3 separate regions of the Homo sapiens genome follow, and all the other regions are reported to be linked to region 1. The links are microRNA targets in miRTarBase. Many come from high-throughput screens and were not tested one by one. Region 1 holds a microRNA gene; each other region holds the end of a gene's coding sequence.
What was found. Region 1 holds the annotated microRNA hsa-miR-4761-5p (ACAAGGUGUGCAUGCCUGACC, at 1,315-1,335, opposite strand). A microRNA usually pairs through its seed, bases 2 to 8, with sites in the 3' UTR of a target mRNA and lowers its output. Matches are read on the target gene's strand: a 7mer-m8 pairs with bases 2 to 8, a 7mer-A1 pairs with bases 2 to 7 and ends in A, and an 8mer does both.

Region 2: miRTarBase lists CACYBP as a target of hsa-miR-4761-5p. Seed matches in the 3' UTR shown: 7mer-m8 at 2,028-2,034 and 7mer-m8 at 1,842-1,848.
Region 3: the mRNA of ARHGEF4 is a reported target of hsa-miR-4761-5p. The part of its 3' UTR that is shown has no 7-base or 8-base seed match.

What each region holds. Positions count from the first base shown.
Region 1 is chr22:19,961,090-19,965,089 of GRCh38, reverse strand. MIR4761 (microRNA 4761) reads right to left here and starts at 1,337; the gene lies at 1,256-1,337. COMT (catechol-O-methyltransferase) reads right to left here. Exons shown (of 6, transcript NM_000754.4): 2 at 3,801-3,891; 3 at 2,275-2,563; 4 at 1,331-1,524; 5 at 791-922. The coding sequence starts at 2,563. RefSeq lists enhancers at 849-1,564, 1,565-2,280, 2,281-2,996.
Region 2 is chr1:175,009,704-175,013,703 of GRCh38, reverse strand. It overlaps CACYBP (calcyclin binding protein), which reads right to left. Exons shown (of 6, transcript NM_014412.3): 6 at 1,677-3,781. The coding sequence ends at 3,625. It overlaps MRPS14 (mitochondrial ribosomal protein S14), which reads left to right. Exons shown (of 3, transcript NM_022100.3): 3 at 1-746. Among named protein-coding and RNA genes, the nearest start is that of MRPS14, 12 kb to the left of the region's middle. RefSeq lists a silencer at 845-1,045.
Region 3 is chr2:131,045,799-131,049,798 of GRCh38, reverse strand. It overlaps ARHGEF4 (Rho guanine nucleotide exchange factor 4), which reads right to left. Exons shown (of 14, transcript NM_001367493.1): 14 at 2,546-3,761. The coding sequence ends at 3,610. FAM168B (family with sequence similarity 168 member B) reads left to right here. Exons shown (of 7, transcript NM_001009993.4): 7 at 1-1,923. Among named protein-coding and RNA genes, the nearest start is that of SMIM39, 13 kb to the right of the region's middle.

The DNA of each region.
Region 1 (4,000 bases):
AGCGGCCCTACCTAGCCAGGCATGGGGGCTGTGCCCCTCGTGCTCCTAGTCCGGCTGCTAACAGCAGTGTCCAGTTTCTGGGAGAGCTGCAGGTGAGCGAGCACCAGGTGGGGAGGCCGTGAGGGTGGGTGTCCCAAGCCCAGTGGAGGATCACAGAGCCACTCAGTGTCGCTGACCACCAGGGAGGGATGGGGCAGTGTGTCACTGATGTGAGGCTCCTTAAGCATCAGTCTGTGAAGGGCCACCAGTGCCCCACGCCCCCCAGGGAAGCGAGGACAGCCCCACCCGCTGTCTAGCCTCACTCGGGGCACTCAGGGTCCTCGCCAGTGGGGCTGGGTTGGGGGAATGCACAAGATGGGGCCTCAGGAGGAAGATCTGCAGGAGACACATGCTTTCTTTGCACGAGCAGTGGCTTGCTTGGGGGAGAGCAGGCTGGGCCCAGAGCGGCCCTTCCCCACCCCATCTCCTTGGTCCTGTGCCGTTTCTGCCCTGGTGTCTGGTCTGGGGTGTGCACCCCACTTCTGCCACCCATTTTGCACCTGCACAGGCAGCTGGCTCCCCAGTTCCCAACAGGCCACCCAGCCAGGCCCCTGGCCCAGCTCCCCACCCATCTCCACCCACCACAGGGCCTCCTCAGTCCCCCACACTCCCAGACCTCAGGTGGTGCCTCCAGAGCGAGCTGTGTCCACACAGGGCTCTACTGGAATGCCTGGCTCTTTGGAGAGGCTGAGGCTGACTGAATGGGCTCTGGGCAGCAGCTGGCACGGATGCCATCCTGGTTGGGGCTCACCTCCAAGAGAAGCGTGTCCGGCAGGTACCGGTCCTTCCAGTGGTCGAGGAAGACCATGTCCAGTGTGTCCACATCATACTTCTTCTTCAGCTGGGGGATGATGTCCTGGGACGCTCCAACCACAAGGGTGACCTGGAACAGCGCCTGTCAGTGCCCACGTCCTCACAGACAGGAGGCCATCCCTACACACCTATACAACAGCGCCTGTCAGTGCCCACGCCCACACAGACAGGAGGCCATCTTTACACACCCATACAAGCATTCATCAGTTTTCTTTAGGGTTCTGGGATGACAAGGCCCCACTCTGTCCCTGCCCCTCCTGGTGCCACCTTGGCAGTTTACCCAGAGCTGTGAGACCCTCACTGAGCTGCTGGGGGGGTCTTTCCTCAGCCCCAGGCTGGGAAGCACTGAGGGGCCTGGTGATAGTGGGTTTTCAGTGAACGTGGTGTGAACACCTGGTGGGGAGGACAAAGTGCGCATGCCCTCCCTGCCCACAGCCGGCCCTTTTTCCAGGTCTGACAACGGGTCAGGCATGCACACCTTGTCCTTCACGCCAGCGAAATCCACCATCCGCTGGGTGATGGCGGCACAGTCGGGGTTGATCTCGATGGTGATGAGCCTCGCCCCTGGTGACAGCAGGCGGGCCATGCGCACAGCTGAGTAGCCACAGTAGGCCCCCAGCTCCAGCAGCACGGAGGGCTGGTGCTCCTGAATCACGGCGTCCACGATCTTGCCTGTGCAGGGTTGGGGACGGAGGAGAGGTGAGCACAGGTGGAGAGAGGGGAACTTGGATCCCCAGGCACGGCCCCCCACCTCTCCCAAAGAGCAGGAGCCCCTCCCAAATGCCTGGCCGCTGGCCCTCCTCTGCCCACCCTCCCTACCCGCTGGAGGGGTATTTCACCTCCCTGGTGTCCCCAGCCCCCAGGACCTGGTCCCCACTGTGAGCGCGCTTGGAGCTCCCATGGTCCCTTAGCCTCTATGCTCACGCTGGTCCCTATCTTTTCCACCCTTCCTGGCTGGCCCCAGTGTGTCCTAACACAGAGCTGCCCTCTCTGAATCACCGAACCGCCCACCTTGGGGCCCTGGGGCGGCACTAGTTCCCTGAGTCACTCCGTGAGCCCGGTAACACATCCTGTGCCCCAGGCTGAAGTTCAAGCGGGAGGCGGGCCCAGGAGAACCTGTCTGACTGGTCCCCAGGCAGGTCCCATGGTGGCCAGAACAGAGTTCAAGGGGAACTGCACCACCGTCAGACCCTGTGAGTGTGGGGGCCTGTTGTCCTGGGGCAGCAGGCAGCAGGGCCTGCAGGGGTCATCAGGGACCCTGGCACCCTGGGACTCCAGAGGAGCCCCCCAGCCCTATCTGGGCATATCCCAGGGTTCCCAGCCCCCTGGAAATGGGGTGATAACAGCTTCTCCTGTAAGGGCTTTGATGCCTGGTCCTGGGTCCCTGTCCCAGAGCTGAGCACCTGCTGGCCCGGACCCCACCTTTCTTGTCGCCCACGTTCATGGCCCACTCCTTCTGCTCGCAGTAGGTGTCAATGGCCTCCAGCACGCTCTGTGCGTTCCCGGGCTCCGCATGCTGCAGCACGTGGTTCAGGATGCGCTGCTCCTTGGTGTCACCCATGAGCAGGTTGTGGATGGGCTGCAGGATGAACTCGTTCCAGCCGATAAGGCACAGGCCCCAGCCCCAGTGCCTCAGAAGCAGCAGCAGCACCACCAGCAGCACCAGGCCCAGCAACACAGCTGCCAACAGCAGAGGCGGGGCCTCCGGCATCTGCAGGGCGGGAGGGGAGGGGCGCCAGTGCTCTGTGCTCCTCCTGCAGCACCCACACGCCCCTTTGCTTGGAGTGCCACCATCGCCCCCTTGTGTTTGCAGAGGGGCAAGGTTCAGAAATGCCAGCCTTGTGCCTCAGTTGCCTGACGTGTCAGCGCCAGGGAGCCAGCCTTCTCGTGCCCTCTGGTGCCCTCGGGTAGACAGAGCAGGTGTGTGCCTCTGGCAGTCCTGTGTGGAGCCTGCAGGGTCACACTCCCTGGCCCTGGGTGCTTCCCCAGGCAGCCCAGGGATCCTCTAAAACCACACAAAATACAGAAGCAGACACGGACTCAGGCTGTTGTCTCCCAGCTGGCTTAGAGGACACCCAGGGGTAGGGAAGCCCCATGGCCCGGAGTTGGGGGTAGTCACGGGTGGCCAAAGGAGAGGCTGTATGGTGCAGCCCCTTGGCCTCATGTGGTGAGCCCGTGCTGGTCACCCATGCTCTGGACGCCCCAGGGATTCATGTGGCCTTTTCATTGAGTGTCCAAGTAAGGACACTGGCAGTCCCCAGGCCAGGCACACCAGGACAGACCCACTCACCACTCCCCTTGGGAACAGCAACGTGGCATGTCCCAGATGAGAAAGGCCAGCCCTGCCGCCCACAACAGTGTACCTCGTGGGGCACAGTGATGGCAAGTGACCCCACTTGAAACCTGTTTGAAATCCTCCTGGTGTGACCCTCCAGGCAGGTAGCCTGGGAACCAGACAGAAGCCTGGTGAGGGGACCCAGCAGGCAGAGAGCAGAGCACAGGAGGCCTGAGGCAGAAGCCCAGGGGTTCAGGTCACAGACCCTAAAACGGGAAGGACACAAGGAAACTTCTTCTAGGGCCCCTGTGCTCACTCAGAGGTCTTTCTGGGATGGGGCCCTGGGCTCCCAGTGGCATAGGAGATCCCACTCTCTGCTGGACGCTCCATTTTAGAAAGGCACACCCAGGCAAGGAGGCAGGCCTAGGGCCACAGAGGGGACACCCCTGGAGGCCAGCCTCAGGGCACCAGAGGACAGAGCAGAAGAGAACAGGGAAGCAGAGGCTCCGCCCTAGGGGGAGGTCATGCGGACACCAGGCTTCTAGGGGATTTCAGGCCATGTGGCCTATTTACACAGGCAGAGTGGACATGTGCTCAGCAGACCTGTGCCCATGCACCGGGCCGGAATCTGTACCCACCCTGGCACTGCCCCGGCTTCCGTTGGCCAACTCACCTTCAAAGCACCTCTGAGCAGGCTCCAGCCCTCTGGCTGCGGGAGGGGTCTGGGGTCTCCTCTGAGCTCGGCAGCAAAGCAGATGTTATTTCTGTGGAAATCAATTTTGCCTTTGGATAATCATCAACATAAACCCTAACCTGGCGATGACCAAGGTCCAGATACCTGAGCCCCTTCCCCGGATAGGGCCAGCCTGGCCT
Region 2 (4,000 bases), not on the chromosome of region 1:
CATGTGAAGGAATTAAGACTGACATACCAGGTATTACAGAGTTTTAAGCACAGGAATGACATCATCAGTTTGTAATACAGGTAAGTGACAGCTGTGTGGCAGATGGCCATGAGAGGAAAAAGCTACAGGCAAGACAACCAGTTAGGAGGATGTCTTAGTTGTTGAGGAAGATGAAGGCCTGAACTAACATTGTGGTATTAGTAGAGGAGAGAGGACAGATTTTTAAAGTTTTAGGAAAGAAAATTGGGCAAGACTTACAAGACTGATTATATCTAAGAGGTAAAGATGGTTCTCTGGGTTCCTGATAAAAGTGTCTAGATAGATGGTAGAGGGCAATTCCAAGAGGGCAACTCCAAGATAGAAAATTTGGAAAAAGAACAAATTTAGGGGAAACAGAAGATAAGCGAGTTCAGGTTCCAGTCATGCGGTGTTGGAGATGCCTGTGTCATCTGATGAAGACTAGTACGCAGCTGGATAGCAGAGTCCGAAACTCAGGTGGAGGTGAAGTTATGAGGGAATTATCACAATCTAGTTTGGATTCATATTTCTTAAATATGTATGACAACTTACCAACTGGAATGTTCTAGCTAATATCTCAACTTAGAATCCATCTCACTACCAATGGGCAAACACTTGTGTTCTAAAGTTACTTGCAAGTAGTTTATACTGCCAACTTGATATATATACATGCTATAGTTTGAACATTTTGTGTACTTCCAAAATTCACATTAAAATCTAATCCACAATGCGTTGGTATTATTAAGAGGTGGGGCCCTTAGGGGTGATTAGGCCAGGAGGGCTCCACACTCATGGATGGGATCAGTGCCTTTCTAAGAGGGCTTGAGGGAGAGAGTTTGTCCCTTTTACCCTTCTGATACTGCGAGAAGGCACCGTACTGGAAGCAGAAAGCAAGCCCTTACCAAACACCAATCTGCTGGTGCCAAATCTTAGACTTCTCCAGCCTCCAGAAGTGCAAGAAGTAAATATTATTTATAAATTCTTAGTCTATGGCATTTTGTTACAGCAGCAGGAATAGACTAAGACAATGTGTTGATAGGTTTAGGGTCATGTTTTACTTTTTCAGTCATGTTAAATTTTAGATGGTTCTAAAGTCAAAACTCTAGAAAAAGTTAAATTCACAGAATAGCTTCCATCCTCATCTCCTTCCTTCCCCTGCTAACAATTTTTATTAGCTTTGGGTTTACTCGTTTCTTTTTGAAACATAAGCAAATACACCTATGTGCATACATTCACATTTCTCACCCTTTCTTACACAAATGTAGTGGGTATACCATAAATGTTCTGCACTTTGCTTTTCCACTTACTCTATCCTGGAGACCATTTTACGTTATATAGAACTCTTCATTGTTTTGTGACTTAAGTACTCCCTCATGTGGATGCACCATAATACATTCCTGTTAAATAGACACGAGTATTTTTAATCTTTTGCATATAGCATTCCAAATTTTTCTAAATGTACCTTTCAGAGCCCAGAAAGAAGTTAAAATTCTGGGTCAAAGGATAAATGAATATGTCATTCTGATGGTTATTACCAAATACTCTTTCTGAGACAAGAGTCTTACTCTGTCACCCAGGCTGGAGTGCAGTGGCACAATCTCAGCTCACTGCAACCTCTGCCTCCCGGGTTCCAGTGATTCTCGTCCCTCGGCTTCCCAGGTTCAAGTGATTCTTGTCCTTCAGTCTCCCGAGTAGCTGGAGTTACAGGCATCTGCCACCATGCCCAGCTAGTTTTTTTTATTTTCAGTAGAGACAGGGTTTCACCATGTTGGCCAGATGGTCTTGAACTCCTGACCTCAAGTGATCCGCCCACCTTGGCCTCCCAAGGTGTTGGGATTACAGGTGTGAGCCACTGCACCTGCCCAAATATTCTTGTTAACCAAAGTTTAACTTTTGCATTCCATTCCCATATATGTGTCCTTATTTCTCCACAGCCTCAACTCAATACAGTTGTTTTTATACTTCTTTTTCAAGTGAAAGGTAAAAACACTGGTTTATTCTCTTCTGAACAAGGTGAGCATCTTTACATGTTAAAGGTCATTTACATTTCTTTTTGTATGAAGTATTCTTAATTATTGGAATCCTGTCAATACATTGTTTGCCTTGGGTTATGGTGGGGTTTTTCTTGTCCTATAAACATTTTTATGTAGTTAAAATTGATCAATAGTTTTATTTATTTCTTCTAGGTTTTAAGTCACATATAATGTCGTTTTCCTCCATTTTCTTCTAGTATTTGTATGCTTTACTTTTTACAATTAGATCGTCAGGCGGCTTGGAATATATCTATATGCCTATTTTCAGTTATCTTAGTATCATTAAAAACCCATCTTTACCCCACTTTTACCATATTCTGTAACTTTCATATGCATTGTGTCTGCTATTCTGTTCATGTGTCAACCCCAATTACAGAGGCATAATGTGTTTCAGTATTTACTTATAGCTATCCTATACATAAACTGTTTCTGTATTTTAAATCCTACCACTTCTTCCAAATTCCCATATTAATTGTAGCTTTAGTTTAGTTTACCCTTCTGGATTTTTCCTGTGTGTCTAACGGCTTTTTTTTTTTTTTTTTTTTTAATGAGACAGGTTCTCAATCTGTTACCCAAGCTGCAGTACAGTGGCATCATCATAGCTCACTGCAGCCTTAAACTCCTGGGCTGAAGTGATCCTCCAGCCTTAGTAGCTGGGATTACGGGCGCCAGCCTTCATGCCTGGCTTCAATTGCTTTCTCTGATCTAACTGTGTTGGCTAATACCTCCAGGAAAATAAAGTAATGGAGATCACAGGCACTGGTCCTGACTTCAGGGGGAATAGGAGTAATTCCTACTAAAAGCCTGATTTTTCTGACATACTCCTAGACAAATAAATCATAAAACTGTTCTAATGAAGAAAAACTTAACTTTATTGAGCATAGGAATAGACGGGCTTTCAAATTATTTTTTGCTTTATGGTTATTACTTTTATAAACCATCTGATCCACGGCAAAACTAACTGGTACCATACAAAGATATGTCTATTATTGTCATGTTTAGATTTTCTATTCCACATTCATTGACAAATATATTTAAATCTAGATAGAAACACCTGTGATTGAATTAGTGCATGGTAATGCATGGCATATACATTGCTTAAGGTGGTAATAAGGGGTCAGATGCTCTACAGCAACCTTCAAGCACAGGCACCGATTTGCATTTTATGCAAAACTTCAGGTTTTACTCAATTTTTACACTGGTGGAAGCTGATGTCAGTAACTTAAAAGGCAAGCAAATACTTTTCCAATTCTTAGCTGAACAAAAAATACACACAATGTAGCGTTTTTATTGGGCAAGACTTGCTTTTTATATTTCACGTGAGAATGCAATATAACCCTTCCTTGAACAAAATGACCAGGGTACTAATAAAACCATCTTTGCAGGAGTGTTTAATAAGCATATTTTATTTAAATAAATCCTCCAGTAGGAAATGGAGAATTCATTGCCTTTACTTAGAAGGCTATGTAAATAGCTATCTGTCAAATTTATATATGCAGCTCACCAATATTCCCTTACTGGAAACATCAGTATTTCCACATCACATCACAGTTCCCAAAACGACTTTAAAGTCTCAAAATTCCGTGTCTCCTTTGGCTTGCTTCTCTCTTGATTCCACCCAGGCTTTATTAATGGTTCGCTTCATATCATCGTCTCCATCTTCATAAATTTTCTTTAGAACATTCATCAATCCCTCACTAGGATCTGTTTCAGTGTCATAGGAGGGCTTCCTTTAAAAAGAAAACATATACAACAATGGGGAAACGAAAGCACCGGAAGATACTATCATTCAGGTTGTTAACACTGGCAGGAAGTAGAGGGATAAGAAGGAAGACAGAGTACCCAAAGATATTTACAATCAAAACGGCACGCACAAATTCATCTTAATGAAAACAACACACACGTATCAAGCATGCACACACTTGGTGCACGAAAGAGGTCATCAAAAT
Region 3 (4,000 bases), not on the chromosome of region 1:
GGAGCATTCTGAGAAATTTGCTTTTTGTGTGTTTGACATTCCTAATTTGGGAGTCCTTCAGCTGAATTACTATTCTTTTAGAAGTTGAGACAGCAGGTAAGCAAAGGACCTAGTTCATGTAAACATGGACATCATGATGGCTATTTAAAAAATATTTGTTCTACACCTTCTCCCCTGAGGCTTGGGGAGTGTGTTCAGCCGCTGCAGTTTCTCTGCTCATGGAGGTCTTGTTTGGATCTGTGCTGGCGGCTGAGCATTTAGTGTGAGCCAGTGACCCATGAACTTGCCGCTCTGTGAGGGCCAGAGTCAGGGCCAGTCATGGTAATGGGCCTGAAGGCACTTCCAGAACCTTTTATGTCTCTCGTGAGCCATCTGTTAAGAACGTTCTTCTTGGTGTGGTTTGTAGGCCTACCTGTCGCTATTCTGGGAAACCTTCTTGAGTGCTATGCAAATGTGTTCACAGGCAATGGGGGTGGTCCTGAGCCTTGGGGTGGGCACCTGGTCAGTGAGTGTCTTGCCCTTCCCCAGCTGGGCATACAGTACCTTGCTCTTTCTGGTGGCATCATCTGGCTGTGATGAATGAGGTCTAGGAAATAATTTGCATGTGTCTTGGGGGACACAACAGTAACGAGAGGAAATACATTATTACAGCAACTTGCGACGTACTAATACCTGTCAGTGTTGGCCCCCGTAAGGTATGTAAGGCACCTGTGAGTGCCAGTGAGTGCTGGTGAAAGGCCAACATGTACTAGTTATGTAAGTATTGGTGTCTGCTTTAAAAAAGGAGACCCAGACTTCACCTGTCCTTTTTAAACATTTGAGAACAGTGTTACTCTGAGCAGTTGGGCCACCTTCACCTTATCCGACAGCTGACTGTTGGATGTGTCCATTGTCGCCAGTTTGGCTGTTGCCCGGACAGGACAGGACCTCCATTGGGCGCAGCAGCAGGTGGCAGGGGTGTGGCTTGAGGTGGGTGGCAGCGTCTGGTCCTCCTCTCTGGTGCTTTCTGAGAGGGTCTCTAAAGCAGAGTGTGGTTGGCCTGGGGGAAGGCAGAGCACGTATTTCTCCCCTCTAGTACCTCTGCATTTGTGAGTGTTCCCTCTGGCTTTCTGAAGGGCAGCAGACTCTTGAGTATACTGCAGAGGACATGCTTTATCAGTAGGTCCTGAGGGCTCCAGGGGCTCAACTGACCAAGTAACACAGAAGTTGGGGTATGTGGCCTATTTGGGTCGGAAACTGCATGTTTCAGAAAGTTTGTCTCTTTTTCCTACTCATTATTTGAAGAAGAGAGAGCCTGTGGGGATAGCCTTATCTTGGTCCACAGGACTGAAGTGAAGTCACTTGGGAAGGGGAGACAGAGGATGAGCGGCGTCTGTGTAGGGACCCCCCCCCGGGCCTGCAGAAGGGTGGTGTGCTCCCAGGACTGGCATGACAGGTGTCTCCTCCTCACCACAGGCTGTGCCCATGAGTCCCTGTGCAGACCAGTGGGCAAGGCAGCTGGGCCAGATCTCAGGCCAGCCGTTTGTGCTCCTAGCAGGGTTGCTGTGCTGGCCACACGGAGAGGCCCTAGAGAGCCTCATGGATTGTAACTAAAGAAGAAACGGTTCCTTTTTGTTTTTTTAAAAATGATTTTTAAATACCGTTTTTTACACCGTTCTCTCGGTACTTTTTTTAAGCTAAGTCAGCATTGTCTTCCAGTGTTAAAGGCATCCCTCACCTCTGCATTGAACTTACGTATCCATGCCAAGGAATGGAATTTCCATCCTGAGCCAGTTCAGTTAGGTGTCAATTGATACTATTTTAATTTTTTATGCAATCTGATGAGATGAGCTCAGATTTAAAAATCTCAAAAGCACGTTTATTGTAACAAGAATTGTTATGTATTAATACTGCAGTTTTCAATAAAGATTGACTTGTGTTGCATATTGTGGTTTTCATGATTTCTCCATATGGGTTTTTGTCTAGAGGTAGCATGGCCTGACTGGGAGGTGCTGGGGCTTCTCTCAAGTTGGGAGATTGCCAGGGGTTTTGAGAAGAAGACCACCATGGCGTCCAGCCCCAGTGACCTTGGCAGTGCTGGAGTGTGGTGGAGGCAGCAGGTTGCAGGGGACCATTTTCCCAAGTGGGACAGGGAGGGAAGCAGCACCATGCTCCCCTTCTGGCTTCTGTGGCCAGGGTCAGAAGACCCTGGGAAGACACGTTCTTCCTCATTTCACCAGGGATGCTGAGGCCCAGAAAGATTACTGACTACTCACCCACCAAACTCACGTGGGCCAGCTCCAGTCAAACAAACACAGGGAAGCACTGGTTTCTGGGTCTTGAGTGCAAGGGAGGGCAGAGCTACCTGTATTCCCCATCAGCAACCAGCATGGCCTGGCCCTGCTCGCCTTAGGCGAACAACTGCAGCCAGCCCCGCCTCAGCCTATCATCTCCACTAAATCCCCGAGGGTGTGATCTGCGACAGGTGAGCCCCCACCCCACCTTTAGAGGCTGCTGGCCACAGGAAAATGCACGCACACCCACAGAAAACGGGCTAGCAGCCAGGTTACTTTTCATAAATTTATTTATGAAATTAAATGTGGTTTCTGGCTTGGAGAAGGAATAGTGCAAGAGTGACTGTCCATGCTGCTGAATCCTGTGGGCTCCACGCCAGCTCGCCAGGCCCTGGCTCTGCTCCTGGCGCCCCTTGGCAGGACAGGGCGCCATCTCCACACACCCGCTGCCTGGGCTGTGGGTCAGTCCTGTGTGCTGAGCCACAGAATTCGGTCTCTCTCTTATGGCTTCTCACGCTCACGAGCGTAAGGCAATCTTCTGTGTCACTAAGAATCAATTCTTTTTCTCCATTGTTTGTTGTTAGAAAAACAAGATGCCAAAATCCAAACAAAACCAGGAACGAGGTGGTTCTGGAGCTACCGCACAGCAGCAGGCAGACTGACCACACTCCCGACTGGGAGTATGCAGCCGACTGCACCGTCTTGTCCTTTTCCGCTACACACACACACACAAGTGAAGAGGGTGTCCAGCAGCCAGCGGTGTCTTGAGGGGCTGGGAGGCGAAGGGCGGGCTCCGGGCGCAACACAAGGGTGTGGAATTCCTGGCTTCTGCCCTCCCAAGTGGCAAGCTGCCTGGCACCACTGGCCGGGCTGGGGACTTGGAGAACTAGAGGGCAGAGGGGCACATGGCCTGGCATTGCAGGCCACAGAAGGCCAGAGAGTCCTGCCCAGAGGAAATGAAAGGAGGATTAGGTTTCCAGAGAAGAGGGTCCCACGCAGGTAGCGCCTTCTCCCCAGCTGGGCCTGGGCTGAGCTGCGGTTTCCCCGCTCCAGCAGTGAGGCCCTACACAGGTCCAGAGGGCGGATGGGGCCCAAGCTGCAGCGGCGGTGTGGCGAGTGCGGGGTCTGCCCCCTTGCTGGTCTCTTCAGGGCACCAGGAGCAGGGAAAAAGACAACAGGAGTACAGACCTGGCACGTCTTGGTGGCACAAGCAACTCCCCAGCCCATCCCTGCTCACTTGCAGGCAGAGGAAGGCCAGGCCGAGTGGGCCTCGGGGAAGAAAAACTGGGGGCCACTGGCAGGAAGGCCCAGCAGGTGCTGTCAGGCAGGGACCAGTTCACTTGCGGAAGGGTGCCAGCCGGCTGATGCTGTGCCAGAAGGTAGATGGCTTGCGCCTGGGCTCCGCCAGCACCAGGACCTGCTGCTGGGGCCGGTTGCTGGGCAGGGCTGGGTGCTTCTGGCGCGTCAGGTAGCAGGGCCGGCCAACAGCTGAACAGGGAGAGACAGCAGAGGGTCATGGGTGCCCAGGGCAGAGTGCCACCCCAGCTGTTGGGGACAGCATGGGGTCCGTCCCAGGGCTCTGCTTCAGAGCCGCCGTAGGAGGCAGTTTTGCCACACAGGACTTGCTCCTGGAGAGCTGACCACATCCAAGAGCTCAGGCTGCCTGGGGTCTCTGGCCTGGGCCTGGCCTCCTGCAGCAGCCTGAAGAGGGGGGTGGCCTGTGCAAA